Homo sapiens: one gene and its partner. The protein of the gene in region 1 purifies or fractionates together with the protein of each later gene. This does not show direct contact. Each region holds a gene or a part of one and is shown in the gene's direction. Other genes may lie near its edges. The genes, in order: FADS1 and UQCC1.

Region 1 (14,774 bases):
AGCCACCTGTCGGTGCGCAGGTTATGCTTCTGAATCTCCTCCCAGCTGAAGGTGGGCACCGACACCTCGCGCTCGGCGGCCCCCTCGCCCTGGTTCCCTCCCTTCCCCATGCTGCCTGCCGACTGTGACGCCCCGTGCACTGCGGCCTCCCCGCGCCGGCTGCTCGCTGCACAGACGGCTGCCTCCCAGCCGGTGTGTGCAGCCCGGGCCCTCTTCGCTTTCGGCTTTTGTCTTCTCCTACTCCTCCCACCGCGCCCCCTCCCCCAGCCTTCTCGCCTGCGCTCGGGAGTGTCCCTGCCTTCCTGGCGGAGGATCCCTGGCTTCCCAGTGCCCCCAAGCGGTCCCCTTCCTCCGCCCCTCCCTCAGCCCTCCCGCTATGGACTTTTGCCTCCAGTAAAAACTCCCCGGGAGCTCAGGGCCTCGACACCTCCTCTGCCCGCCCCTCCGGCTCCCCCCGCCTCGGGTTCCACATCCTCCCGCGTTCCCCGCCGCCCGAGTTTCCACAGCGATCAGCAGAGCGCCTGCACCAATCCGGTCGCGTCGCCCCGCCTGCCATTGGCCCAGGAGGATCTTTCGAAGGCCAGCGGGCTGGAGCGGCGGGTCCCCGGCTCCCCCGCCCTCCCGCGTGGAGTCGAGCCCTGCTGCGAGGCAGGCTACGTGTCCGACCTCCTCCCTCCCCCACTCTCCGGCCCCGGGCGCCGGAGGAGATCCTAGAGGAGATCCCGGTGGGGGCAACGAATGGGCTCCGCGCGCTCCGGGGCGCGTGCGCGCACGCCCGGCGCTCTGGGGGTTTGCACCTGATGCCGACACAAAGCCGGCGCGGCCACCAGGGTGCCAGCAAGCGGCCGGGCGGGTGGACCGGCGGGCTGCGGGGCACTCAACTCCAGGGCCGGCTTGGCTAGGTGACGCCCTTCCTTGGCGCGCGGCAGTCGAGACTCCAGTATCCCACATTGTCCGCGCCATCCACATTCTGGCGCCTTTCTGCAACCTCCCTAGAGACACAAGCCGGCCTTGGATTAGAGGGCTTTGAACCCTCTAGTCAGACAATCTTAGAAAAGAATTGCGGAACCTCTGCTCTGCTTTCTTGGTCTGGGCGCCATGGCTGCGGTGAGGGGGAAGGGAGGGGAAGGCAGAGGAAGGGGGCGATGAGGAACTGGCGCGGTCCTTGCCCTGGTCTCAGTAAGCTCAGTCTCTTTGGGAATCGTGGAAGCAGACACATCATTGGGCAGTGATGTTGTGCAGACTCCAGCAAATAAAGACTGCCGTATCGAAGGGATAGGAGGAGGGTTAGGTCTTTTAGGCGTGGGGCAAGAGACAGGCCCCTCAGACCCCAGCTGGATGGGGCGGCTTAGTGCCGGGCGTCCTGGGGGAAATGGGCCTGACTGCATCCGGAGGGCTAACGGGACACGTGGGAAGTAAGGATGAACAGAGAGGGTGGGGTGCACGAGGCTTGGGAATCACTAGAGGAGTTATAGGGCCCTCAGATTTCAATGGGATTTACAGGTGCCTGTGTGCTAGCACACCCTAATCATTAGATTCTCATCACAGGCTGAGAGGTAAACAGGACGCATATTATTACATCTCACTTGAAAATGGAGAGCCTGAGATTGAGAGAGATGGTCAAACGGGCCCTGCCCAATCTAAATTTCACAGCAATGCAGGGGTGGTGGGGGGATCACTCTGCCCAACTGGTGGGGTTGTACTTGGGGGGGCAGATGGGCTCCCTTTCCTCACATTCACACAGTCCCCAACCTCTCCCATCACATTTCATGCTGGTGTCAGCCCTGAGCATCCTTCATTCACTCCACAGACTGCAGACATAAAGACAGTAAGGCCTCTCTGTCTTTGAGTGTGAGCAGACATCCCAAACAAAAGCCTTCTGTACAAAATAAGAGGATGAAGCAAGACCTCCAGAGAGTATGGTGGCCTTGAGGACTGTCAAACGTTGACGGAAATGGAACCAAGAAAATTATTTTCTCAGAAATGGATTAACATACCATATAGATAACTTTAATGAACATTTGTAAAGGGTGTGGAGCTCGGAGCAGGGAGTGATAGCTGAAAGGCAGAACCAGGGAGTATCTCACAGAGGCTTTGAAGGTTCAGGCCCTAAAAGGGAGCACGTATGGGTGGCCTGTGTAGGGTGGCTGAGAAGCGTGGACCGGCCAGGGCCTGGGGTCCCCAGCGGCTCCCAGCACAGTACCAGCCAGGGTAGGTCCTGAAAAAACATAAAAACATGTGTTGAAGACACAAATGAATGAATGAAGTTCAAAGAATGGCTCCAATGAGGCCGGCGGTAGATGGGGCTCAAATTGAGAAAAGCCCCAGCAGCCTCAGTAAGGGGTAGGAAGGGAGGACTTTACCATGGAGGAGGCTTGGACATCCGTAAAGCAGGTGTACTGTGATCAGATCCATGGTGTAGAAAGATAACTCCAGAGGCTGGGGCTGGACTGGGATGTACGGGAGAAACTGGGGAACAGTGATGAGTTCAAAGATGAGGGCAGTGCTCGAGGAGAGGGGAGGGGAGGCCTGAATTAAGAGAGAACTTTAGGGGGCTGACCCCACACTGGACACTGCCATGTGCCTCCCTGCCCTCTAATTTTTTTTTGAGATGCAGTCTCACTCTGTTGCCCAGGCTAGAGTGCAGTGGTGCGATCTCTACTCACTGCAAGCTCCACCTCCCAGGTTCACGCCATTCTCCTGCCTCAGCCTCCCGAGTAGCTGGGACTACAGGCGCCTGCCACCACACCCGGCTAATTTTTTTGTATTTTTAGTAGAGACGGGGTTTCACCGTGTTAGCCAGGATGGTCTCGATCTCCTGACCTCGTGATCCACCTGCCTCGGCCTCCCAAAGGGCTTTTTCTTTCTTTTTTTTTTTTTTTTGAGACAGGGTCTCACTCTGTCGCCCAGGCTGGAGTGCAGTGGTGCGATCTCAGCTCACTGCAACCTCCACCTCATGGGTTCAAATGGTTCTACTGCCTCAGCCTCCTGAGTAGCTGGGATTACAAGCACCCGCCACCATGCCCGGCTAATTTTTATATTTTTAGTAGAGACAGGGTTTCACCATGTTGGCCAGGCTGGTCTCAAACTCCTGACCTCAGGTGATCTGCCCACCTCAGCCTCCCAGAGTGCTGGGATTACAGGCGTGAGCCACCCTGCCCAGCCTAGAATATCCTTTGGAGGTAGAATCAAGACCGCATTAGTTGGAGGTACAGGGGCAGGGGTGATGGTAGAGATGAAGGAATAAGAGAAATAAGTCTGATTCTAGCATTTGAGTTGAGCAAATGAATAGATAATGGGACCATTTACCAAGATGAGGGAACAGAGTTAGTACAGGGGTGAAAAATTAAAAATTCTATTTTAACGTTATGTTTGAAACACCTAGGCTGGGAGCAGTGGCTTATGCCTATAATCCCAGCACTTTAGGAGGCCGTGGTGGGTGGCACCATGCCCAGATAATTTTTGTATTTTTAGTAGAGATGGGGTTTCACCATGTTGGCCATGATGGTCTCGATCTTCTGACCTCGTGATCTGCCCACCTCAGCCTCCCAAAGTGCTGGGATTACAGGCGTGAGCCACTGCACCCGGCCAACACCTGATTCTCTCTTACTGCAGAAGGGTCTCCTCCATGTGACAAAAAAATATGGCTGTATTTGCTAAGCTACGCTAGCAGAAATAATTCTCCCCCATTCCCTGCTCCCAAGGATTAATTCCAGTTTAATGGGCTCTGCATCAGATGCTAACCATTGGGCCACTGTTATCAGACGGCTGAGTTACTCTATTAGGTGTAGGTCATAAGCCAAGCAGCAGACCTGGGCTTTGGGGAACAGGGTCTGTTCCTTTTTGTGGGAAGTCACAAACCAAAAGCAATTACAGACCGCTACAGTATTCCTTTCCCATACCTACCATGTGATGTTAGACCTCTGTCTCTGACCTTCAGTTTCCTCATGATAAAAAGGAGACAGTGATTTTTCTTTCTTTCTTTCTTTCTTTCTTTCCTTTCTTTCTTTCTCTCTCTCTCTCTCTCTCTCTCTCTCTCTCCCTCCCTCCCTCCCTCCCTCCCTCCCTCTCTCTCTCTCTCTCTCTCTCTCTCTCTCTCTCTCTCTTTTTTTTTCCCCCAAGATGGAGTCTCACTCTATCCCCCAGGCTGGAGTGCAGTGGTGCAATCTTGGCTCACTGCAACCTCTGCCTCCCGGGTTCAAGCGATTCTCCTGCCTCAGCCTCCCGAGTAGCTGGGATTACATGGCATGTGCCACCACACCCAGCTAATTTTGTATTTTTAGTAGAGACAGGGTTTCTCCATGTTGGTGAGGTTGGTCTCGAACTCCCGACCTCAGGTGATCTGCCCACCTCGGCCTCCCAAAGTGCTGGGATTACAGGCATAAGCCACCGCACCCAGCGGAGATAGTGATTTCTAACCTATCTCATCTATTTTAATAACGAGGCTCAAAGGACACAAGGTATGTGAAAGTGCCATACATGTATTTTCTTAACTAGCAATATTGGTGAGGTCAAACTTTAACCAAGCTCACTAGATAATGATTTATTAATATGTGGTGAAAGTCATAACTATTTTTAAAAAATGAATAATTTTCAACAACAAAAATGGCATCAACTTAGTAAGTGCATCAAATTTAGATGCCTTAAATGACAGGCTGGGGACCCTATCTAAGAAACTGGGTTAGGCCAGGCGTGGTGGCTCACACCTGTAATCCCAACACTTTGGGAGGCCAAGGTGGGAGGATCACTTGAGCCCAGGAGTTTGAGACCAGCCTGGGCAACACAGTGAGACCCTGTCTGTACAAAAATATAAAAAATTAGTTGGATGTGGTGGTGCATGCCTATAGTCCCAGCTACTCGGGAGGCTGAGGTGGGAGGAATGCTTGAACCGCAGAGGTGGAGACTTCAGTGATCCATGATCGTGCCACTGCACTCCAGCTGGAGTGCAAGACAGAGCAAGACCCTGTCTCAAAACTCAAATAAAATAAGCTGGGTTATTATCTCTAGGTGGACATTGATAAAAGGTATGGTATGTTAGGTAAAACTTTAAAGCACAGATTGCTAGTGCTGGAAAGCATCTGGACAATCTCTTCACTTTACAGATAAGGGATCCGAAACCCATAGAGGTGGACATAATGTCCAAGATTACACAGCAGTAGGTGGACTAGCAGGTCCAGGTTGCAGGTGTCTCAACTACAATCCTTATTCTTTCCATTCTACCACATTGCCTCCCTTCCTTGGTACATTCTACTGAAACTTGATGGATCCTTCTCCAACTCTGAAGTGCACAGAGAATAGAATTTGAGATCTTCACATCCCAGAGTCTAGTGCTTCGTTGCTGCATCTTTAGTGCTCATAGTATTGGTGGAGAGGTACTTGGTCAAGGAGCTGTAGGACACCATTCCTTTCCTGTTCTGGTGATAAGAAGTGCAGTAAAACTAAGGAATGCATACTAAGTGCTCGAGGAATACCTGTGAAATAATTCAGCAGTAAATTGGTAATTTGGCAACAAATGACAAGAGACTAAAAATGTTATTACCTGATCCACTAATTACACATGTAGAATTTATCCTAAGAAAATGTTCAGAAATAGAAACCAATATCTATATACAAAAATATCCATCGCAACATTTATACAAGCGAAACTTCTACACAAATGTCCAACAATAGGGAAAAAGTTAAGTATATTGGGAGTATATATATGTGTGTTTATAGATATATGATGACTTACTATAGTGAAGTAAATATTCTCATTATAAAATTTTAAGCTTAGCTTTTTTGTTTTATTTTAAAGAGAGATCATTTGTACTGGAAAGTTACATTAAAGGCCCAGCAAAATGCTTACAACAACGCCTAGAGGACTCCAGACCCATTCCCCGGGCAATCTGAAGATCTGGGACCTACCTACCCAGGCCTCCCTTCTCCCACTTAATAGAGGCAGGTCTGAGGGCCTGGGAGGAAGAAGGCACCGCAGAGAAGCAAGGACAACAGCCTTCTCCTCTTTGAACCAGGGTGGCCTTATACCAAAACATTTATTGAACTCACTGCTAAGGAACTCATGTAGAGAGGAACTAAAAGTTATAAATAAGTTCTGGGGTAAATTCTAGCCCCAAATATACTAAATTTCATGTGTGGCTTCAGCTCTTTGGATCTGTCACCTTGTCTATAAAACAGTGGGTTTAATATATCTGTCCCTAAGGCATCTATATTCTATACAATGATAAGAAGACTGGGCCGGGCGCGGTGGCTCACGCCTGTAATCCCAGCACTTTGGGAGTCTGAGGCGGGTGGATCACCAAGTCAGGAGATGGAGACCATCCTGGCTAACATGGTGAAACTTTGTCTCTACTGAAAATACAAAAAATTAGCCAGGCGTGGTGGCAGACGCCTGTAGTCCCAGCTACTCAGGAGGCTGAGGCAGGAGAATGGCGTGAGCCCTGGAGGCGGAGGTTGCAGTGAGCCAAGACAGCACCACTGCACTCCAGCCTGGGTGACAGAGCGAGACTCTGTCTCAAAAAAAAAAAAAAGACTGCATTAAGGAAATCCCGTGAATTCCTCCATGAGCCTGCCTCTGCCCCATCCCAATCTCCCACACTCTTAGAATGCAGCAAAATGAGAGTCCTGTTTCTAGCTCTCGCTCTGCCTCTAATAGAGGTATGATTGGGATTCTCCCTTTAGTTTAAGCACTATATGTCATAAATTATTTTTAATATTACTTAACATTAATCTGCAGAATTATTACAGATGACTTTTCTTAAAACAAAGACTGATTCTGTCAACTTTATTAGTGCCTACTGTGTTGTAGTCACTGCACCCCCATAAGTTATCCAATTTCACAGAAATCCAGATTTTTCAAAAATGGTTTTGGTCTTTAATGGCCTGAAGGGCTGCTACTGAGGGGAGGCTGCAGCAGAGGCTGAGCACAACCGGTATTGCTTCTCCTATATGTGTTGACTTTGTAAAGGATCCAGGCTATTGGCCAACTATTATGTTTAGGATCTTTTGTTAAAATGGATCAAAATTTGAACTCACAATTCAGGTTATTCCAACAGCCACTGGCAGTTAGGTTATTCAATTATGGCTTCATTACAATCGGCATTAAGGTCTTTTTTTTTCTTTTCTTTAGAGAGAAAATGGTGGGACAGTTAGGAAGGGGTCTCACTATGTTGTCTAGGCTGGTCTCCAACTCCTGAGCTCAAGTAATCCTCCCACCTCAGCCTCCCAAAGCACTGGGATTATAGGCACGAGTCACTGTGCCTGGCCTGGCATTAGGGTCTTAAGCTCATTTCGTTCTGTTCCTTGAGGATTAATTTGGCCAGAACAGTTAGTATTCACAAGTGGCAACCTAAAATTAAGTATGTGATTCATATCCAGGATGAGGCAAGTTCCCTTAGGATCAACAGGGCCTGCAAGGCAAAGGTTTCCTTTAGTTGACCTGGATATGGGTTTATTGCAGTCTGTGTGACCACCTGTGTAGGTGGGTAAGGAGATGAGAGGGCAACACGACATTTGCCTAGTGGCCTATAGGCTTACTCACCTGTATTTTTTCAGGTTGAAATCATCAGTTGATTCAGCAAATTTTTTATTTATTTATTTATTTAGAGACAGAGTCTGGCTCTGTCACCCAGGCTGGAGTGCAGTGGTGCAATCTCGGCTCACTGCAACCTTTGCCTCCTGGGTTCAAGCGATTCTCCTGCCTCACCCCCACAAAGTAGCTGGGATTACAGGCACCCCCCACCACACCCGGCTAATTTTTGTATTTTAGTAGAGACAGGGTTTCACCGTGTTGGCCAAGTGGGTCTGGAGCTCCTGACCTCAGGTGATCCGCCCTCCTCACCCTCCCAAAGTGCAGGGATTACAGGCATGAGCTGCCACGCCCGGCCAATTCAGCAAATTTATGTGGGATTCCACCTAGAACTCCAAACCAAGGTGCTCTGAATATGTATTGGTAGTATAAACAGAATCCACAGCCCTATCCTGGATTATAAGCTCGTTAGGGAGGTAGCAAAATACATGACACTGACCTAAGAACACATGAAAAGCAAAGAAACATGAATGCAAAGTCATGTCATATAAGCTGTTTAAATCCTGAGTAAGATGAATTTAATTTGCATCTATCCTACTGACCTATAATCCGTGACTCACTTGTCTCTCTCCTCCAGTAGACATGACTAGGCATGACCCATATAGTACTGAACTTTGTATTCCCAGCACCTTACCAAAGTAGGTGCTGGGAATACAAAGAGGAGACACCCCACAAATGTTAAATAAAACACTTAATGAATGGTTCTAGGTAGGTGGGGTTGATCAAGGAATTATCTTACAAGTGGTATGGGTTTTTTGGTTTTTTCTGAGGTGCAGTCTCACCATGTTGCCCAGGTGATTCTCCTGACTCAGCCTCCCAAGTAGCTGGGATTACAGGCACTAATTTTTGTATTTTAGTAGAGACAGAGTTTCACCATGTTGGCCAGGTGGGTCTCGAGCTCCTGGCCTCAGGTGGTCCACCTGCCTCTGCCTCCCAAAGTGCTGGGATTACAGGTGTGAGCCACCGCGCCCAACCTAGTCTTTTTATAGAACAGTTATCTCTGTAGCCAAACTTACATCATATTATTTAATTTTCCTTGATTCGGGGGAGGGGGGAGGGATAGCATTAGGAGATATACCTAATGCTAAATGACGAGTTAATGGGTGCAGCACACCAACATGGCACATGTATACATATGTAACAAACCTCCATGTTGTGCATATGTACCTTAAAACTTAAAGTATAATAAAATAAAAGATTTACATAAAACATTTTTCCTTGATTCTGTATTAAAGGAAAGATGACATTATTTTCAATGTCTGCAAAATATTTCACTGATGGGCATTTAGAGTGTTTCCATTTCCCGCTATCATAGATACTGCTTTAATGAATATTTTTTGTTTATAAATAGTTTTCTTTTTTTGTGTGTGGATATAGAATCTTGCTTTGTTGCCCAGGCTGGAGTGCAGTGGCACAATCTCGGCTCACTGCAACCTCTGCCTCCCGGATTCAAGCAATTCTCCTGCCTCAGCCTCCCGAGTAGCTGGGACTACAGGCGCACGCCGCCACGCCCAGCCGATTTCTTTTGTTCAGGCTGGTCTTGAACTCCTGAGCTCAGGCAATCCGCCTGCCTCGACCTCCCAAAGTGCTAGGATTATAGGCGTGAGGCACCCCGCCTGACCTATAAATATTTTTCTAAGAACATTTCCTTAGGCTATATTCCTAAACATGGAATTATTGGGAACATTTTTATTTTTCTATTTTTTTTCATCTCTTCAGTATTCAAAACATTCCTAAATTCTGGCCGGGTGCGGTGGCTCACGCCTGTAATCCCAGCACTTTGGGAGGCCGAGGCGGGCAGATCACGAGGTCAGGAGATCAAAGCCATCCTGGCTAACATGGTGAAACCCCAACTCTACTAAAAATACAAAAACAAAATTAGCTGGGCGTGGTGGCGGGCACCTGTAGTCCCAGCTACTTGGGAGGCTAAGGCAGGAGAATGCCATGAACCTGGGAGGTGGAGCTTGCAGCAAGCTGAGATCAGGCCACTGCACTCCAGCCTGGGCGACAGAGCGAGACTCCATCTCAAAAAAAAAAAAAATCTTAAATTTCTATATAAGTTGTCAAACTATTTTTTCCAGTTTAATCAACTTACACTTCTACCAGCAGTATGAGAGCTTTTATCCCACTGCACAGTCACATAGGAAAAATGGTTTATGTAAAGGACCTCTCTTCTGTTATTTAATACCCATGAATTTCTTATATAGTTGTAATCAGCGAACCCATACTACTTTGGGTTCTGCTTATTTCACGGGGAAGGATTCTATATCTATCAATATAGTTCACATTCTAGCCATTTAAAATCATTCTTTAATTCTTCATTGTGTTAACAGATCCCAATAAGCTTGGCGATTTTCTTATTGTCAGGACTCGGGTTTATTTCCAGTTTTTGCTATTAAATTGGCTATTTCTGCATCTTTGCACAGTCTCCCCTACTTTACCAAGAGTGAAACTGCTTGATCAAAGAATAGAAAATGTTTTGTAGCTCGCATTAGACACTGCCAAGTTGTTGGGCAAGGTTTTTAAAAAAGGAATATTGGCTGTACAGAGGTGCAGCTGTGTGGACCATCATTCCTGAGCAGGGTCCAATAGCCTGGCATCTTACCTGGAAGTCAGGACATCTAAACTTCCCTATGGGAACTTGGTAAGCCCCTTCCCCATTTCGAACCTCAATTTTCTTATCTATAAAATGAAGAATTTGGATGGAATGAATTAATCCTTTTCTACCAGAAATCTAGCCATATTTCACCTAGTCTATTCTGTATCACCCTCTCCTGACTCCTACGTGCTCAGAATCTAGCTCAGTGCTTGGGACAGTTATGTTTCCTTTCCCTTTGAAGTGCCCAAATACCAGTGTAATGAGAAATATGGCAGAGCCTGAGAGTTCAGAGCACAGGCCAGGGTCAAATCTCAGCCCTCCACTTACAAGCTGTGTGACAAAATAACCTCCCCCGGGCTCAGTTTCTTCACTGTAAATTAGGTTAATTGTTCCAACCTCATAGGGTTGTTAGGAGAATTAAATGAGTTAAGGTTTGCAAAACGCTAAGAACAGTGCCTGGCACACAGTAAGTGCTTTATAAAGTGTTTGTTGAATAAATAAAATTTTGGACCTAAACTCTGGGTCTCTTCAGGACTGCAACAGCTTTGTAACTGGCAACCCCACTTTTAGGTGCGTTCCCACTCCTCTAAAACCCAGAGATCTAAATGCCAAATCTCTCTGCTTAAAAAGTCTCCCAGGGCTCCTAGGCGCCTCCAGGCTAGAACAGAAATGCCTCAGCTTGAAGACCCAGGCTTTTCAGGTGAAACACCTAAGGGTCAGGAGACGCTAGGATCATCACTCAAGGATCCCAGTGAATTTTTCCAAAATACAATAAAAATAAAAACAAAAAGAGGCAAACAGGGTTATAAAAATTGTGGGGCATTTTAAATGTTTCATTGAACAAATTAAAGCATTAACAGCCCTCCCCCAACCACCACCAAGCCCAAGAGACCGTAAATATGCTGTTCACAAGATAACTGCAACTTTCAAGGGCTCTCAGGCTGCTACTTCGGGCAGCACAATTGGCGGCACGACGTGGCAAGCAGGCAGTAGTTTCCAACCCTGGAGGGTCAGCGTCTGGAGACCCCGGCCAAGGCATCCACAGCCTAAAGATGATGTCCGCGACCGCCCGGGCAGCCTCGTGCACGGAAAAACCTCAACCCCGGCCCCGCCCACCCTTCCTGCGGCCACCCCGCAGCCCTGGCCCCTCAGTCCATTCACTCCTGCAGCGCGGCCCCGCACCCAGGGCCTGCACTAGAACCGCTGTTCCTACCGCGGCGCCCCCTGGGAGCCAACGCCGCGATGCCCGCCTGACGTCAGGAAGTCGAATCCGGCGGCGACGCCTTTAGGGAGCCCGCGAGGGGGCGCGTGTTGGCAGCCCAGCTGTGAGTTGCCCAAGACCCACCGGGGGACGGGATCTCGCTCCCCGCGCCACGAGGCTCGGCCAATGGGAACGCGCGCTGCGAGGCCCGCCGGTCTGCCCTGCGGTGCTGAAAACCCGGCGCGCAGGCGGCTGGCTCTGGGCGCGCGCCAGCAAATCCACTCCTGGAGCCCGCGGACCCCGAGCACGCGCCTGACAGCCCCTGCTGGCCCGGCGCGCGGCGTCGCCAGGCCAGCTATGGCCCCCGACCCGGTGGCCGCCGAGACCGCGGCTCAGGGACCTACCCCGCGCTACTTCACCTGGGACGAGGTGGCCCAGCGCTCAGGGTGCGAGGAGCGGTGGCTAGTGATCGACCGTAAGGTGTACAACATCAGCGAGTTCACCCGCCGGCATCCAGGGGGCTCCCGGGTCATCAGCCACTACGCCGGGCAGGATGCCACGGTGAGCGCAGCCAGGCGGGGGCACAGGAGAGGGCGGGACCGGAGGCTGAGTGCAGGGGAGACAGAGTTACGCACTCCGAGCCAAACACCGACTAATTCGGAGGAAAGCCCGGAGGCGCCTGATCATACCTGTTGCCCGGTGATTGGGTGTCCTGCGGATGCGGGATGAAAAGGCGGGAGAGAGGCCTGGAGAAGTGGAGTCTGGGGAGTGGGGATGGAGGCCAACAACACGCACACACAAACAAAGGGTCCCGCCTCCCTGCCGTGCATTCCATCTGCAGCCCCGAGCCTCAGGTCTCTGGGCGGGGACAGAACCCCGAGCTGGGTAGGCTAGGAGGGAGGAGAGCAAGGATGCAGGCCGCCTGGGGAGGGAGGGGGTCAGTGGCCAGGGGAGGGAGTCACATCCTGTCTCGATGGCTAGGAGAGGCAGCGCAGCCGCGTCTGGACCTAGGTGCCGGTCTCCACTCGCCAGCAGGAGCGGAGAGGGAGCAGGAAAGGAGCCCATTCTCGAGGATGGGGCTGAAACGGGAAGCTTGGGGAGACCGCTGCCTTGGGGACCCCTGCGTCGTGTGAAGACTGGAGGACGCGGAAGGGACAGCGCTGGCCGGGGAGGGCAAGCGGCCGCTGGCGTACATAAGGGATTGGGAATGGCATACACTTAGCGAGGACCCCCAGAGCTGTTCTCGAATCGCCGGGGAGGCCACTGAGCCGCAGGCCAGCGAGGTCTTCAGCTATTCCGCGGAGCGGACCGCTGTTTACGCTCTGGGGCGGTAGGCCCTTCGCGGGGTCCTGTCCCTTCTTCCCTTGGTCTCACTGCGGGGTCGGCGCGCGCCCCAGCCCCAGGCCTGCTGCTTCCCTTTCTAGACCACAGCCCTCAGAGCTAAGGCCCCGGCGCCTCTCTGCTGGGTTGGAGTCCTGGGGACTCAGTCCTAGGGACTCGAAAGTCGGGGCGTTCCCTTCACCGCGTTTCCCCCTTGGCGGCCAGAATGGCGTCCCCTCCCCTTGCATCCCCCTCTGATCCCGTGCCCTGCAGCGTGATGCCCTCCACTGTCCCTATCCACTACCCTGGCGTCCCAGAGTGTGCCGCGGGTCACCAGGTTCCCATAACGTCGCAGCAGAGCTTAGACGCTGCGGGGCGAAGACCCGCCCCACCCTCTGACGCGACCAGCCTAGTGGGCGAGGCCAGAGCTTGCGCGGGTCAACCAGAGTGACCACTCGGGAGCCCTGACTGCGGCCAAGGGCGCAGGCGTGTCCCGGCGCATGCGCAGACGAAACAGGCACCAACGCTGGAGCTTCCCGCAGTGTGATTTGGGGCCGGGAATGCCGCGGCGGGGACGGCGATTGGTCCGTATGTGTGGTGCCACCGGCCGCCGGCTCCGCCCCGGCCCCCGCCCCACACGCCGCATCACTTACAGGGCCCGGGGCTGCCGGACCTGCCAACGTGAATCTTATCGCCATGGACCTTACCTTGCACAACCCAAAGTAGCTGCCTTGGGGCAGGGGGTGGCCAGAGTGCTTAGGGAAATGTGGAGCCCTACCCAGAACAACGGTGGAGGGAAAGGGAAGAAACGCAGAAGTGCCCCAGTTCGGACGTAGGGAAGTCTTCCTCTTCGTGGTTTTTGGAGAACCCTAGCTAAGAGAGGAAAGGGACTTATTGAAAGACCCGCAAGAAGGGACGGAAGTCTCATAGCCCTGAGAGGTGAAGCCAGCTGGAGTTGATGGGTCGAATGGGGACCTAGAGAACTTTTCTGTATCTAGAGGTTTGTAAAATGCACCAATCAGTGCTCTGTAAAAACGCACCAATTGGCGCTCTGTAGCTAGCTAGAGGTTTGTAAAATGAGCCAATCAGCAGGACGTGGGCAGGGACAACTAAGACAATAAAAGCTGGCCACCCCAGCCAGCTGCTGCAACCCGCTCCAGTTCCCTTACAGGCTGTGGAAGCATTGTTCTTTTGCTCGTCACACTAAACCTTGCTGCTGCTCATTCTTTGGGTCTGCAAAGAGTGTTATTCCTTTAAGAGCTATAACAGCGGGAAGGTCCACGGCTCCATTCTTGAAGTCAGTGAGACCATACCCGCCGGAAGGAACCAACGCCCGACACAGCCCCACCCATCTCTCCTGTTTCTCACCTATACTGAAATTCTTGGGCAAAAGCTGTCTGTGGACACACCCAGGGGAAAGGCCAGCCCAGGCAGGTGTTTCTTAGTGGTTCCCCTCAGCCAATGCTTCCCATTCCTTGATGCATCCTTCTAACTAGAGCAGATACTCGGTGATCTTAAACTGTGGACACCTGGGAGCACCCTCAAAAGGCAGCTGGGCCTAGGGAGATGGCCTGTGCTTCTGTGTCAGGAGTTGGTTCCTTCAGGTGGGCTCGTGGTCTCGCTGACGTCAAGAATGAAGCCATGAACCTTCGCGGTGAGTGTTACAGCTCTTACAGGTGGCGTGGACCCAAAGAGTGAGCAGCAGCAAGATTTATTGTGAAGAGCAAAGAACAAAGCTTCCACAGCGTGGAAGGGTACCCGAGCAGGTTGCCGCTGCTGGACGTTGGGGGGTGTGAGGGGGAGCAGCCTTTTTTTTTTTTTTTTTTTTTGAGACGGAGTCTCCCTGTCGCCCAGGCTGGAGTGCAGTGGCGCGATCTCGGCTCACTGCAGGCTCCGCCCTCCCCCGGGGTTCACGCCATTCTCCTGCCTCAGCCTCCCGAGTAGCTGGGACTACAGGCGCCCGCTACCTCGCCCGGCTAATTTTTTGTATTTTTAGTAGAGACGGGGTTTCACTGTGTTAGCCAGGATGGTCTCGATCTCCTGACCTCGTGATCCACCCGCCTTGGCCT
Region 2 (15,552 bases), on another chromosome or scaffold:
TCAAAAAAAAAAAAAAGGTGATTTATTAAATATTTAACTTTCCTAAAGATTTTCACATAGATAAATTTGTAAATCAGCATAAATTCTTGATAGACAATGGCTTTTCGTTTTAGGAAAGCACAATCACTTTATTTGAATGGAGGTGGGTACCTTCGGCTTGATTGCATAATCTAATGGGATTGGGACACTGCCCCCCTTCCCTTCTTCTTTCTGGCTTCCTCTAACAGTTTTTTTCTCCAGGGAAAGAATGTATCACCTTACCTCTTCCAGGGAGGGACTCTTGATCCTTGGCAGTTAACAGAGAATAAAAGAGGTTTCCTTATTTGAAGCTAAAATGAAAACAACTTGGATAGCTTTCCAGTTTCATATACAGTGAAAGCAAGCTAGAGCAAGCCCCAAAATTGGGGTCGCATTAACATCTCAACTTGCCAAGCCTAAAGAGCATGCTGGAAGTAAACTATGCTATGATCTACAATCTATTCTCTGTAAACCAGCTAAGAGAGCCCTTTTAAAACATGTCACTGCTTTGCTTAAAATAAAATAAAATAAAATGCAAACTCCTTATCATGGACCTTCAAGGCCCCCAAAATCTGGACTCTGCCTGCCTCTCAGACCTCATCTTTTTTTTTTTTTTTTTTTTTTTTGAGACGGAGTCTCGCTCTGTTGCCCAGGCTGGAGTGCAGTGGCACGATCTTCGCTTACTGCAAGCTCTGCCTCCCGGGTTCACACCATTCTCCCGCCTCAGCCTCCCGAGTAGCTGGGAATACAGGCGCCCACCACCACGCCCGGCTAATTTTTTCTGTTTTTAGTAGAGATGGGATTTCACTGTGTTAGCCAGGATGGTCTCGATCTCCTGAACTCGTGATCCACCCGCCTCGGCCTCCCAAAGTGCTGGGATTACAGGCGTGAGCCACCTCGCCCTGCCTCAGACCTCATCTTTTATACTGCAACCCTCACTCATTATCTTCCAGTCACACTGATCTTGGCTTTCCTTTTGTCCTCAAAATCTTCAAGCCAATTCTTGAATTGTGCTATTCTTTCTGCCTGAAATGCTCTATCAACATAACTTGCTGATCAAGTCAGTTGTAGTAGTCCAGGTGAGAGAAGACGTTAGTCTTACCTAGGAAGGAGGCAGTGGAGATTGGCGAGGAGCAGATAGAATTCATACGTATTGGCCGGGCATGGTGGCTCATGCCTGTAATCCCAGCACTTTGGGAGGCTAAGGCAGGTGGATCATGAGGTCAGGAGTTCAAGACCAGCCTTATCAACATGGTGAAACCCCGTCTCTACTAAAAATATAAAAATTAGCCAGGCGTGGTGGTGGGTGCCTTTAATCCCAGCTACTCAGGAGGCTGAGGCAGGAGAATCACTTGAACCTGGGAGGTGGAGGTTGCAGTGAGTGGAGACGCGCCATTGCACTCCAGCCTGGGTGTCACAATGAGACTCCATCTCAAAAAAAAAAAAAAAAAAAAAAGAAGAGGAAGAGAAGAGACACAGAGACAGACACCCAGGGAGAATGTCATGTGATAACAGTGGCAGAGATTGGAGTTATGCAGGTGCAAGGTAAGAAATGCCAGGGATTGTTGGCAATCTCCAGAAGCTAGAAAAGGCAAGGAAGCTTCCTCTCCTGGAACCTACAGATAGAGCGTGGCCCTGTCAACACCTTGATTTCAGACTTCCAGCCTCCATAACTACCAAACAATACATTTCCATTGCTTTAAGCCACCCACATAGTGGCACTTTTTTATGGCAGCCCTAACAATCTAATGTAGTTATAAATGGTGGTTTTGAAGAAGGTGGACAGAGTATAACTTAATAAAGGTTGAAAACCATATTTAGTGGTACCAATATAATATTTGCATGATTTTCTTCGATAGTACTCAAGAATCCGGAGGCAGGCATGGAATAAATAGACAATTGGAGGGTTGAGGTCTTTCTAGGTGGACGAGATAGGAAGACAATTGAGCAAGGGAGTTAATACTGGCAAGAGAGAAATTAAAACAATAGACCAGATGGGAACTAGATGGGAGAAGCAAAGAGGGGAGAGGGTCAATAGACTATAAAGAGAAGAGATAAAAAGTGTGGTGTCTCAATGGGGTAGAACAACAGGCGTACTAGGGGTAATGAATGAAAACCAGAATAATAGGATGGTGAGAACACAGAAGGCATAAATTAAAAATTTCAGAATTCAAACAATTCTGGTGTTGAGGTCTAAAATTGGCCATGGGAGTGGGTGGGGCAGCACACTTTATAGAAATGGAACAATCCAATATGTGGCCTCTTGTGACTGGTTTCTTTCATTTAATGTTTTTTGAGGGTCATTCATGTTGTAGCATGTATTAGTATTTCATTTCTTTTTATTGCTGCGTAATAATCCATTGTCTGGATATAGCATATTGTGGTTTTTTCATTTTTTTAGTTTTGCTCTTGTTGCCCAGGCTGGATTGGAGTGCAATGGCACGATCTCGGCTCATTGCAACCTCCACCTCCCGGGTTCAAGCAGTTTTCTTGCCTCAGCCTCCCAAGTAGCTGGGATTACAGGCGCCTGCCACCATGCCCGGCTAATTTTTTTGGTATTTTTAGTAGAGACAGGGTTTCGCCATGTTGGCCAGGCTGGTCTCGAACTCCTGACCTCGAGTGATCCCCCCCACCTCGGCCTCCCAAAGAGCTGGGATTACAGGCGTGAGCCACTGTGCCTGGCCACCATATTGTTTTTATCTATTCTTTGGTTGATGGATATTTGGGTTGCTTCTACTTTTCGGCTATTATGAATAATGCTGTGATGAACATTTGCAAACAAGTTTTTGTGTGGATATATATTTTCATTTCTCTTGGATATATACCTAGGAATGGAATGGCTGAATCATATAGTAACTGTATGTTTAAAATTCATAGAACAGCCAGACTGTTTTCCAAGAGTTTGCAGTGAGCTGAGATTGCTCCAGCCTGGGCGACAGAGCAAGAGTCTCTCTCAAAAAAAAAAAAATTTTTTTTTTCTTCATAGAGATGGGGTCTCACTATGTTGCCCAGACTGGTCTCAAACTCCTGGCCTCAAGGAATCCTCTTGCCTGGGCTGCCTGAGTTGCTGGGATTATGGGCATGAGCCACCATGCTTGGCCCAATTGTTTTATTTTAAATAAACGGCTGGGTTTCAATGTGGGGCCTATAAAGAAGTATGGGAATTCTGAGGGGTGAAGTCATTGTGAAGAGAAAGATGGGCAGAGGGAGCTTGGGGAGAACAGTGGAGATTGCTGGGGCTTCAGGCTGAGGGTTTGGGGTACAAGAAGTTGAGGAGCTCTGGCAGCGGAGGGAAGCCGAGCAGCACTGGGGAGCTGAGGTTAAGGAGAATGGGGAGTCCTCTGTGAGAGGACTATGGAATCTATGTGAGATAAAGTTGTCTATACTGCCAGCCCATTCCTAGAAAGTTCCTTCTACTTTCTGCATGAATGAAACCTGGCCTTCCCATTTGAATATTACTTCCCTTGTAGCCCTCTCTGGAATGTTGTCTGCCATCATTATATGCTCTGTTTGTGTTAAGACTGGGAGTTGACCAGGTACGGTGGATCACCCCTGTAATCCCAGCACTTTGGGAGGCAGAGGCGGGCAGATCACCTGAGGTCAGGAGTTCGAGACCAGCCTGACCAATATGGTGAAACCCCGCCTCTGCTAAAAATACAAAAATTAGGTGGGCTTGGTGGCGGGCGCCTGTAATCCCAGCTACTCAGGAGGCCGAGGCTGGAGAATCGCTTGAACCCAGGAGGCGGAGGTTGCAGTGAGCCGAGATTGCGCCATTGGACTCCAGCCTGGGTGACAGAGCAAGACTCCATCTCAAAAAACAAACAAACAAACCACAACAAAAACTGTTTCTTGATTTTTTATTTTAATTAATTAATGTATATATTTTTTGAGACAGGGTCTCACTTTGTCACCCAGGCTGGGGTACAGTGGCACGATCAGTGCTCACTGCAGCCTTGACCTCCCCAGGCTCAGGTGATCCTCCCATCTCAGCCTTCTGCGTAGCTGGGACCACAGGCATACACCACCACACCCAGCTAATTTTTCTGTGTTTTCAGTAGAGGCAGGGTTTTGCCATGTTACCCAGGCTGGTCTCAAACTCTTGGGCTCAAGAGATCTGCCCAGCCTGGCCTCCCAAAATGTTGGGATTACAGGTGTGAGCCACCGTACATGGCCCAAAGTCAACTTCTTAAATATGAATTAGGTAGCCCTCCCTACTTAATATCCTCCAATGGCTGCATACGGTGGCTCTCACATGTAGTCCCGGTTACTCAGGAGGCTGAGGCAGGAGGATCCCTTGAGCCCAGGAGTTCATGATCAGGTTGGGCAACATAGAGAGATCCTGTCTCTTAAAATATAATTCCTCTGGCCAGATGCGGTGGCTCACGCCTGTAATCCCAGCACTTTGGGAGGCCAAGGCGGGCGGATCACGAGGTCAGGAGTTCAAGAACAGCCTGGCCAATATGGTGAAATCCTGTCTCTACTAAAAATGCAAAAATTAGCCGGGCATGGTGATGCACAGCTGTAGTCCCAGCTATTCGGGAGGCTGAGGCAGAAGAATCACTTGAATCCGGGAGGCAGAGGTTGCAGTGAGCTGAGATTGCGCCACTGCACTCGAGCCTGGGCGACAGAGCGACCCCCGACCATACCCGGCTAATTTTTTGTATTTTTTTGTAGAGACAGAGTTTAGCCATGTTGCCTAGGCTGGTCTCGAACTCCTGGTCTCAGGTGATCCACCTGCCTCGGCCTCCCAAAAGTGTTGGGATTACAGGCATGAACCACTGCACCCGGCCTTAAAATGTACTGTTTTTTTTCCCCACCTCAAGACTCTTGTTCTGAAATCTTCTGTCCCTCTCCCACTTCCCAACATTTGCTGATAGAATAGCATTTGTACAGACACATAGACCAATAGAACAGAATAGAGACCCAAAATAAACCTATGCATTTACAGTCAATTGATTTTCAACAACGGTGCAAAGAACACACAATGGGTAAAGGGCAGTCTTTTTAATAAATGGTGTAGGGACAACTAGATATCCACATGCAGAATGAAATTAGACTCTCACCTCATACCATATACAAAAATCGAAGGTCGGGTGTTATGGCTCACACCTTTAATCCTAGCACTTTGAGAGGCTGAGATGAGAGGATTGCTCAAGCCCAGAAGATTGAGACCAGCCTGGGAAACATAGAGAGACCCCCGTACCCCATCTCTACTAAAAATAAAAAAATTAGCTAGGCATGGTGGCACATGCCTACGGACCCAGCTATTCAAGAGGCTGAGGAGGGAGGATCACTTAAGCCCAGGACTTTGAGGCTACAGTGAGCCTTGATTGCACCACTGCACTCCAGCCTGGGTGACAGAGCAAGACCCTGTCTCAAATAAAAATCAATTCCAAATAGATTTAAGCCTTAAACACAAGACCTCAAACTAAAATTACTAGAAGAAGAAAATATAGAGGAAAAGCTGCATGACCTGGGTCTGGGCAATAATTTTTTTAATATGACCCCAAAAGTACAGGCAAAAAGAGTGAAAATAGAGAAATAGTGTTATATGAAACTAAGAAACTTTTGCACAGCAAAGGAAACAATCAACGGAGTGAAGAGACAACGTATGGAATGGGAGAAAACATTTAAAAACCATATATCTGATGAGGGGTTAATACCCAAATTTTAAAATGGGCAAAAGATCTGAATAGACATTTCTCAAAAGAAGACATACAAATGGCCAACAAGTATATGAAAAAATGCTCAGCATCATTAATCATCAGGGAAATGCAATCTAAAGCCACAATGAGATATTACCTTGCACCTGTTCGAATGGCTACTATAACATTGTTCCTAAGGACGTGGAGAAAGGGAACCCTTGCACACTGTTGGTGGAATGTAAATTAGTACACCCATTATAGAAAACAGTATGGAGGTTCCTCAAACAATTAAAAACAGAACCACCATAGGATACAGCAGTCTCACTATTGGATATATATTCAAAGGAGATGAAATCAGTATGTTGAAGAGGCATCTATACTAACATGTTCATTGCAGTGGTATTCACAACAGCCAAGTATGGAATTAACCTAAGTGTCCATTAGTGATGAACAAATAAAGAAAATGTGGTGGCTGGGCGTGGTTGTTCACGCCTGTAATTCCAGCACTTTGGGAGGCCGAGGTGGGCAGATCATGAGGTCAGGAGACCGAGACCATCCTGACCAACATGGTGAAACCCGTCTCTACTAAAAATACAAAAATTAGCTGGGTGTAGTGGTGCACGCCTGTAATCCCTGCTACTCAGGAGGCTGAGGCAGGAGAATCGCTTGAACCTGGGAGGGGGAGGTTGCAGTGAGCTGAGATTGCATCACTGCACTCTAGCCTGGTGGCAGAGTGAGACTCCGTCTCAAAAAAAAAAAAAAAAAAAAAGAAAAAAGAAAGAAAGAAAGAAAGAAAATGTGGTTTATGACCAGGTACAGTGACTCATGCCTGTAATCCCAGTACTTTGGGAGGCAGAGGTGGGCAGATGACTTGAGGCCAGGAGTTCGAGACCAGCCTGGCCAGCATGGTGAAACCCTGTCTCTACTAAAAATACAAAAATTAGCCGGACATGGTGGCACGTGCCTGTAGTCCCAGCTACTTGGGAGACTGAGGCACAAGAATTGCTTGAACCCAGGAGGTACAGGCTGCAGTGAGCTGGGATTGTGTCACTGCACTCCACCCTGGGCGGCAGAGCAAGACTCTGTCTCAAAAAAAAAAAAAAGTGATTTATATATATAATGGAATGCTATTCAGCCTAAAAGAAGAAGGAAATGCTGGCCAGGTGCGGTGGCTCACACCTGTAATCCCAACACTTTGGGAAGCCAAGGTGGGCAGATCACCTGAGGTCGGGAGCTCAAGACCAGCCTGACCAACATGGAGAAACCCCATCTCTACTAAAAATAAAAATTAGCTGGGTGTGGTGGCACATGCCTGTAGTCCAGGCTACTTGGGAGGCTGAGGCAGGAGAATTGCTTGAACCCGGGAGGGAGAGGTTGCAGTGAGCCAAGATTGTGCCACTGCACTCCAGCCTGGGCAACAAGAGCAAGACTCTGTCTCAAGGAAAAAAAAAAGAAGGAAATGCTCATATCTATGACAACATGGATGAACTGGGAGGATGTTATGTTAAGAGAAATAAATGAGGCACAGAAAGACAAACACTGCTTGATTTCTCTCATATGTGGAATATAAGTTGAACACACAGAAGTAGAGAGTAGAATGGTGGTTACTAGAGGCTGAGGAGATGTTTGTCAAAGGATACAAAATTTCAGTTAAGAGAGATAAGTTCAGGAGGCCACTTTGGGAGGCCAAGGCAGGCGGATCACCTGAGGTCGGGAGTTCGAGACCAGCCTGACCAACATGGAGAAACCCCGTCTCTACTAAAATATAATATTAGCTGGGCGTGGTGGCGCATGCCTGTAATCCCAGCTACTCAGGAGGCTGAGGCAGGAGAATCACTTGAACCCGGGAGGCAGAGGTTGCAGTGAGCCAAGATCACGCCATTGCGCTCCAGCCTGGGCAACAAGAGTGAAACTCCGTCTCAAAAAAAAAAAGAAAAGATCTATTGTATAACATGGTGACTATACCCACTATGAATATGTATTGTATTCTTGAAAATTGCTTAAAGAACATATTTTAAACATTTCCAGCACAAAAATATGAGGTAATGCATATATTAATTAGCTTGACTTAGCCATTTCACAATGTATACATATTTTAAAACATCCTGGCCGGGGGCACGGTGGCTCACTCTTGTAATCCCAGCACTTTCGGAGGCCGATGTGGGTGGATCACCTGAGGTTAGGAGTTTGAGACCGTCCTAGCCGAAATGGCAAAACCCCGTCTCTACTGAAAACACAAAAATTAGCCAGGCGTGGTGGTGCGCATCTGTAATCCCAGCTACTTGGGAGTCTGAGGCAGGAGAATCGCTTGACTTGGGAGGTGGAGGTTGCAGTGAGCCGAGATTGAGCCACTGCACTCCAGCCTGGGCGACAAGAGTGAAACTCTGTCTCAAAAAAAAAAAAAAAAAGAAAAAAGAAAACATCCTGTTGTACACAATATATATTTTTTGTCAATTAATAAAAATCAATAAATTTAATTAAAAAAATAGTCGAGTGAAGTTATTTCCCATGACTAGCTCCTCTTCTTCCTTTAGATTTCATCTTACATGTCACTTTCTTGGAGAGGCCTTACCAACCTAACCAAAGTAGCTCCCCAGTTTTAATTTTTTTCACTGGGTTCCTATGCCTCCCCCACCAGTCTAAGAACTCCATGAAGCCAGTATGTCTTGTGTTCAGCACATAGGGAAGACTCAATAGGTCTTTGTTGACTGAATGAAATGAAAGAAGTCCTTCAACATCCTGCCCCTCTGCTCCCTCAACCCCCAAAGCACCAGTACTTTGTCTTCTCTTCTCTTGGGATGTAATGGAAGAGGAGTCTTCTACCAAGGCCGTTCTCTGCCACTTTCCTCAAGAAGCTCCTTGCCTCTTTGATTGATTCTCCTGTATACTCTTTTTTTTTTTTTTTTTTTGAGACGGAGTCTCGCTTTGTCACCCAGGCTGGAGTTCAGTGCCCCAGTCTCAGCTCACTGCAACCTCTGCCTCCCGGGTTCAAGCGATTCCCTGCCTCAGCCTCCCAAGTAGCTGGGATTACAGGCACACGCCACCATGCCCGGCTAATTTTTTTCGTATTTTCAGTAGAGACGGGGTTTCACCATATTGGTCAGGCTGGTCTTGAACTCCTGACCTCAGGCAATCCACCTGCCTCGGCCTCCCAAAGTGTTGGGATTACAGGCATGAGCCACCGGGCACGGCCCTGTATACTCTTCACTAATCTTTTCCTATCAATATGCAAAGATGTTTCCCTTAAACAACCAACCAACCACAAATCCCAAAAGTTTCTTCCTCTACCAGGCTTCAGATCGGCACATGACCGCCTTCTTGCCTTGACTTTCAGGAGTCTGGTATCCCCCGTATTCTTTTATCTTAGCCTCCTTCTCTGGCTTTTTTTTTTTTTTTTTTTTTTTTTTTTTTGAGACAGAGTCCAGTCCTGCTCTGTCGCCCAGGCTGGAGTGCAGTGGCGCGATCTCGGCTCACTGCAACCTCTGCCTTCAGAGTAGCTGGGATTACAGGCACACACCAACATGCCCGGCTACTTTCTTTGTATTTTTAGTTAGGGACGGGGTTTTGCCATGTTGGCCAGGCTAGTCTCGAACTCCTGATCTCAGGTGATCCGCCCGCCTCGGCCTCCCAAAGTGCTGGGATTACAGGCGTGAGCCACCGCGCCCGGTCTTCTGGCTCTTTCTAAAGATTGGGATTTCCTAAAGTCCTGTTCTTTTCAACCTCCATTGAAAAGTGTTGGGGTGGAGTTTGGGAAGGAGGGGCTGAGGAGTGAGGCTGGGTTAGGTGGGGAATAAAGAGAGGGATATGAGAAGCCCCGAGGTCTGGGGTCAAGGAGACAGGCGTGGGGGAAGGATTTGAACCACTGTTACGTGTAGTGGGGGAGACAGCAGGGAGAGCGTGCCCGGGCACGACAGCCTGGTGCACAGCCGAGAAAACAACAGCGCGTGCGCGTAGCGACCTCTTTGCGCCTGCGCCCCCCTTGCCAGTCTTTCGCCGGCAAAAGGAGGACGTAGAAAAGGGGACACCGGAAACTCACTCTTCACCCGGAAATGGTTATTGAGGAACATGGCGTTGCTGGTGCGAGTCCTTGTGAGTGAAGGAGTAATTTTCTACGGTAGCTCTCTGGGTCCCGGGTTGGAGTTCGACAAGGCAGGGCGGGAGGAATTGGAAGGAATCGCAGGAGGGAAGCCTGTGTTATAGCTAGGCTGAGTGGCCGCTTTTCCGTGGGGAAACTGAGGCAGCTTCCGACCTCTTCCTACCCCGTTTTGACCTTAGCTCCCCCATCTTTCGAGAAGGGGAAGACTGACATCTGGCCTTTATTTGATGGGGTTTACTTTTCCTTCCCTCCCCCATGTACCTGCTTCCCCTCAGGGAGAGGAGCATGTAGGACACTGATTGGAGTTTCAGGAGGCCTGGGTTCTAGTCCCTGACTGTCACTGATGCATAGTGACTTTAAGCAAGTCACTTTTGGGCCTCATTGACCCTATGTGAAAAACGAGGACATTTATCTCCTGCAGTCCCTTTAGATTCTGAGATTCTCAGGGTTTCTTTCATAGGTAATAAGTCAGTTCTTAACTGTACAGTTAAGTGGAATATAGATTATTAGATTGAAAGCTGCGTGAGAATTGGAGTCATGTCTGTCTCCGTCGTTTTCACTTTGCCTAGCATGGTGTCTGGCACATCATAGGTGTTAAATGATTACTTGTTGAATAAATGAATGAAGTAAGGAAAGACTACCAGACTCTTTAGCACCCGTGTGTGAAACTACTGCACCTCTTGAGATTTAGTCCTGACCCTTCTAGCATACTCTTTTCTCTAGCAATTAAAGGAGAAAAGAAAGTGGCAGCAGAAAAAACGTTAGGATACAGAGCTTAGTTTTTAATCATGGAGGGATGGGAGAGTGTATAGTTTTAGCGAGTCTTCAAAAACTGGGTCAAAGACACTGTTTTTCATAGTAGACATGGTCTATTCCTGTGTCTAGGTAACTTCTGAATTGTTATTTTACATTTGTGTTTTTGATCTTTTTATATATGTCTTACAAGGACGACAGTTTTACTTCTTGTATTCCTTGCCAGCCTAGCAGAGTGAGGTACCCTCGACTGCTGTTCAGTAAATATTTATTTGTAGAGTAGCCCCTGTAACTGCCAGAAAGATTCACCTGGTGAAGTGATTGTTTGATTTCAGGCCAGAAATTGATTCAGAAATGAGGACTGCTGGGGAAATGGCAATTAGAATGTTCTGAATTTAGTGGTTTTTTTTTTTTTTTTTTTTTTAATCCTTCCCCTGCCACCCTTTAGGGTTTTGTTTTTTTTTTTTTTTTTTTTGAGGCAGAGTCTTGCTCTGTCGCCGAAGCTGGAGTGCAGTGGTGCCATCTCGGGCTCACTGCAACTTCTGCTCCCGGGTTCAAGCAATTCTCCTGTGCCAGCCTCCCGAGTAGCTGGGATGACAGGCATGCACCACACCACACCTGACTAATTTTTGTATTTTTTTTTTTTTTGAGATGGAGTCTCGCTCTGTCACCCAGGGTGGAGTTCAGCGGTGTGATCTCGGCTCACTGCAACCTCTGCCTCCTGGGTTCAAGCAGTTCTCCTGCTTCAGCCTCCCAAGTAGCTGGGATTACAGGCGCCTGCCACCACACCTGGCTAACTTTTGTATTTTTAGTAGAGATGGAGTTTCACCATGTTGGCCAGACTGGTCTCGAACTCCTGACCTCATGATCCGCCTCCTGCGGCCTCCCAAAGTGCTGGGATAACAGGCATGAGCCACCGAGCCTGGCCTGACAACTATCATTTTATAGGGCACTTACTACGTGCTAAGCACTTTAAAATACTTACCTAATCCTTATAACATCCCTTTGGAAAGGAGGGCGTGTTATTTCCTCTATTTTACAGATAAGAAAACTGAACCACAGAGAGGTATTCCTGGCCAGGTGCCGTGGCTCACACCTGTAATCCCAGCACATTGGGAGGCTGAGGTAGGTGGATCACTTGAGGCCAGGAGTTCAAGACCAGCCTGGCCAACGTGGTGAAACCCTGTCTCTACTAAAAATACAAAAATTAGCCAGGCCTGGTGGTGGGCGCCTGTAATCCCAGCTACTCGTGAGGCTGAGACACGAGAATTGCTTCAACCCAGGAGGCGGAGGTTGCAGTGAGCTGAGATTGTGCCACTGCAGTCCAGCCTGGGTGAAAGAGTGAAACTCTGTCTGAAAAAAAAAAAGAAGTATTCCTGAAACATTCTTGTTAGTCTTGCTTTATTTTTTCCTCTTTTTGTCTTGTCAGCCAATATTTTCCCTTCTCCAGTGATGGTTTTGGGAAGGAGGAGGAAACTAAAACACTGCTATTGTTGAATGACTACAGCAGAGAGCCTGGACATTTGATCAGTGGAACTGGACATGCTTATGGTTTTTATGAGTTGTCCTGGGCATTGCTGATCATTTCTGCTTTTCTTTGGAAATAGTAAAAATTGCAGAAAGCCACCCTGTACTTTAGAAAATTAAAAAAAAGTTGTGGTAAAATACATGTAACAAAATTTACCTTTTAAACTTTTTTTTTTTTTTCTGAGACGGAGTTTTGCTCTTGTTGCGCAAGCTGGAGTGCAATGGCGTGATCTTGGCTCACTGCAACCTCTGCCTCCCGGGTTCAAGCGATTCTCCTGCCTCAGCCTCCTGAGTAGCTGGGATTACAGGCACGTGCCACTACGTTCAGCTAATTTTTTGTATTTTTAGTAGAAATGGGGTTTCACCATTTTAGCCAGGCTGATCTTGAATTCCTGACCTCAGGTGATCTGCCCGCCTTGGCCTCCCAAAGTGCTGGGATTACAGGCATGAGCCACTGTGCTTGGCCACCTTTGAAACTTTTTAAGTGTACAGTTCTGTGGTATTGAGTGCATTTACATTGTTGTGCCATCTTTACCACCCTTATCCACAGAATTATTTTCATTTTATAAAACTGAAACTCTGAACCTATTAATAACTCTCTATAGTCTTTTCTCCCCAGCCCCTGGCAGCCACCATTCTACTTTCTGTCTCCGTGAGTTTAACTACTTTGTGTACCTCATATAAGTGGAATCATACAGTATTTGACCTTTTGTGACTGGCTTATTTCATTTAGCGTAATGTCCTCAAGATTCATCCATGTTGTAGCATGTGTCAGAATTTTCTCTTTTTTTTTTTTTGGAGATAGGGTCTCGCTCTGTCATGCGTGCTGAAGTGTAGTGGCTCAATCATAGCTCACTGCAGCCTTGACCTCCTGGGCTCAAGTGATCCTCCCACTTCAGCCTCCTGAGTAGCTGGGACCACAGGCATGTGCCACCACGCCTGGCTACTTTTTTTTTTCTTTTTTGTAGAGATGGGGTCTCCTTATGTTGCCCAGGCTGGCCTTGAACTCCTGGGCTCAAGCAATCCATTGTCTCGGTCTCCCAAAGTGCTGGGACTACAGGCGTGAGCCACTATGTCCAGCCTGTTTAATTTGTTGAGGAATTGTCCTACTGTTTTCCACAGCAGATACACTGTTTTACATTCTCACTAGCAGTGCACAAGGGTTCCAGTTTCACCACATCCTTGCCAACACTTGTTATTTTCTGGTTTTTGTTTGTTTGTTTTTGAGACAAGGTCTTGCTGTGTCATGCAGGCTGGAGTGCAGTGGCCCAATGACAGCTTACTGCAGCCTCCACTTCTGGGCTCAAGTAATCCTCTCATCTTAGCCTCCCGAGTAGCTGGGACTACAGGTGTGTGCCAACACACCCAGCTAGTTTTTAAATTTTTAGTAGAGAGGAGTTCTTGCTATGTTGCCCAGGCTGGTCTCAAATTCCTGAGTTTAAGTGATACTCCTGCCTCAGCCTCTCGAAGTGTTAGGATTACAGGTGTGAACCACCACACGTGGCCTTATATTCTGTTTTTTGACAATTGCCATTCTAATGAGTATGAAATGGTGTCTCATTGTATTATTGATTTACATTTCTCTAGTGACTAGTGATATTGGGCACTTCTTCATGTCTTTTTTCTTTTTGAGACAGAGTTTCACGCGTGTTGCCCAGGCTGGAGTGCAATGGCATGATCTCGGCTCACCGCAACCTCTGCCTCCTGAGTTCAAGTGATTCTCCCGCCTCAGCCTCCCAAGTAGCTGGGATTAGAGACCTGCACCACCACACCTGGCTAATTTTGTATTTTTAGTAGAGATGGGGTTTCCCCATGTTGGTCAGGATGGTCTCAAACTCCCAACCTCAGGTGATCCGCCTGCCTCGGCCTCCCAAAATCCTGGGATTACAGGCGTGAGCCACCACGCCCAGCCTTAAATTTTGTATTTTTAGTAGAGATGGGGTTTTGCTATGTTGGCCAGGCGGGTCTTGAACTCCTGACCTCAGGTGATCCACCCGCCTTGGCCTCCCGAAGTGCAAGGATTACAGGCATGAGCCACTGCATCTGGCAAGTTTTTCATATATTTTGAATATCAATCCCTCATCAGATATATGATTTGCATGTATTTTTCCTATCCTATGGGTTGCTGTTTCAGTCTGTTGATACTATTCTTTGATACACAAAAGTTTTAAATTTTCATGAAGTCCAACTTATTTTTTTTTCTTTTATTGCCCACTCTTTTTTTTTTGACAGGGTCTTGCACTGTCACCCAGGCTAGAGTGCAGTGGCACAATCTAGACTCACTGCAGCCCCTGCCTCCCAGGTTCAAGCAATTCTCCTGCCTCACCCTCCCAAGTAGCTGGGATTACAGTCATGCACCAGCACACCTGGCTAATTTTTATGTTTTTAATAGAGAGGGGGTTTTCCCATGTTGGCCAGGCTGGTCTCAAACTCCTGGCCTCAAGTGATCCGCCCACCTCAGCCTCCCAGAGTGCTGGGGTTACAGGTGTGAGCCACCATGCCTGGCCTATTGCCTACTTTTTTGATATCATGTCCAAGAAATCATTGCAAAATCCAATGTCATGAAGCCATTCCCGTAAGTTTTCTTTTGAAAGTTGTATCATTTTAGGTCCTACATTTTGGTCTTTTATCCATTTTGAGCTAATTTGTGTACATGTTACAAGCTTTTACTATATTTTATGAGCTGTTTTCTTAGTGGCTGCCCTGGGATTACAATGAACATCTTAATTCATAACAGTCTTGTTTGGATTAATACGAACTTCATTTCAGTAATATGTAAAGACTTTCTTTCTATATAGCTCTGTTCCTTCCCGAACATTGTGTTATTGTCATCTAAATTACATCTTTATGCATTATATGTCTACCAATGTAGATTTATAATTATTTCTTCTTGTAGTTGTCTTTTAAATTAAAAAGAAAAAGAATTACAAACAAAAAATCCATTTGTACTGTATTTTTTATTTACCTAAACAGTTACCTTTACCAGTCTACTTTATTTCTTCATGTAGATTTGAGTTATTCTGTAGTTTCCTTTCATTTCAACCTGAAGGTCTGCCTTATTCTTGCAGGGCAAGTCTACTACTGACAAATTCTTTCCATTTTGTTTATCTGGGAAATCTTCATTTTTTCCTTCACTTTTGAATAATAGTTTTGCTGGATATAGAATTCTTGTTTGAAAATCTTTGTCTTTCCTTGTTTTGACTATTTTATCCCACTGCCTTCTGGCTGCTACAGTTTCTGAGAAGAAATCCACTGTTAATGTTCTTGAGGATACTTTGTATATGATGAGTTTCTTCTCTTGCTCATTTAAAGAATCTTTGTCTCTTGGCAGCTTGCATATGATGTGTCTGTGGCTCTCTTTGTGTTTATCCTATTTGGAGTTAGTAGAGCTTCTTGGATTCCTAAATTACCATTTTCCATTATGTTTGGGATGTTTTCTGCCATTATTTCTTCAAATATTTTTCGGTCCTTTTCTTTCCTTCTGAGACTCTAATTATACATATATTGGTGTGT

The links.
Region 2: the proteins of FADS1 (region 1) and UQCC1 purify together in Homo sapiens (affinity purification with mass spectrometry; 2 studies listed by BioGRID and IntAct, with this or other methods). This does not show direct contact.

Annotation. Positions count from the first base shown.
Region 1 is NC_000011.10:61,813,727-61,828,500, reverse strand, and holds the start of FADS1 (acyl-CoA (8-3)-desaturase), read left to right. Parts: upstream 1-11,497; 5' UTR 11,498-11,571; coding exon 11,572-11,946; exon of another isoform or gene 11,947-12,074; coding exon of another isoform or gene 12,075-12,215; exon of another isoform or gene 12,216-12,298; intron 12,299-13,250; exon of another isoform or gene 13,251-13,265; coding exon of another isoform or gene 13,266-13,427; exon of another isoform or gene 13,428-13,644; intron 13,645-14,774. Other genes in the region: FADS2 (acyl-CoA 6-desaturase), read right to left, coding at 1-110.
Region 2 is NC_000020.11:35,406,140-35,421,691, reverse strand, and holds the start of UQCC1 (ubiquinol-cytochrome c reductase complex assembly factor 1), read left to right. Parts: upstream 1-9,718; 5' UTR 9,719-9,728; coding exon 9,729-9,752; exon of another isoform or gene 9,753-9,777; intron 9,778-11,399; exon of another isoform or gene 11,400-11,637; intron 11,638-15,552. UniProt on the Homo sapiens protein: Required for the assembly of the ubiquinol-cytochrome c reductase complex (mitochondrial respiratory chain complex III or cytochrome b-c1 complex). Involved in cytochrome b translation and/or stability.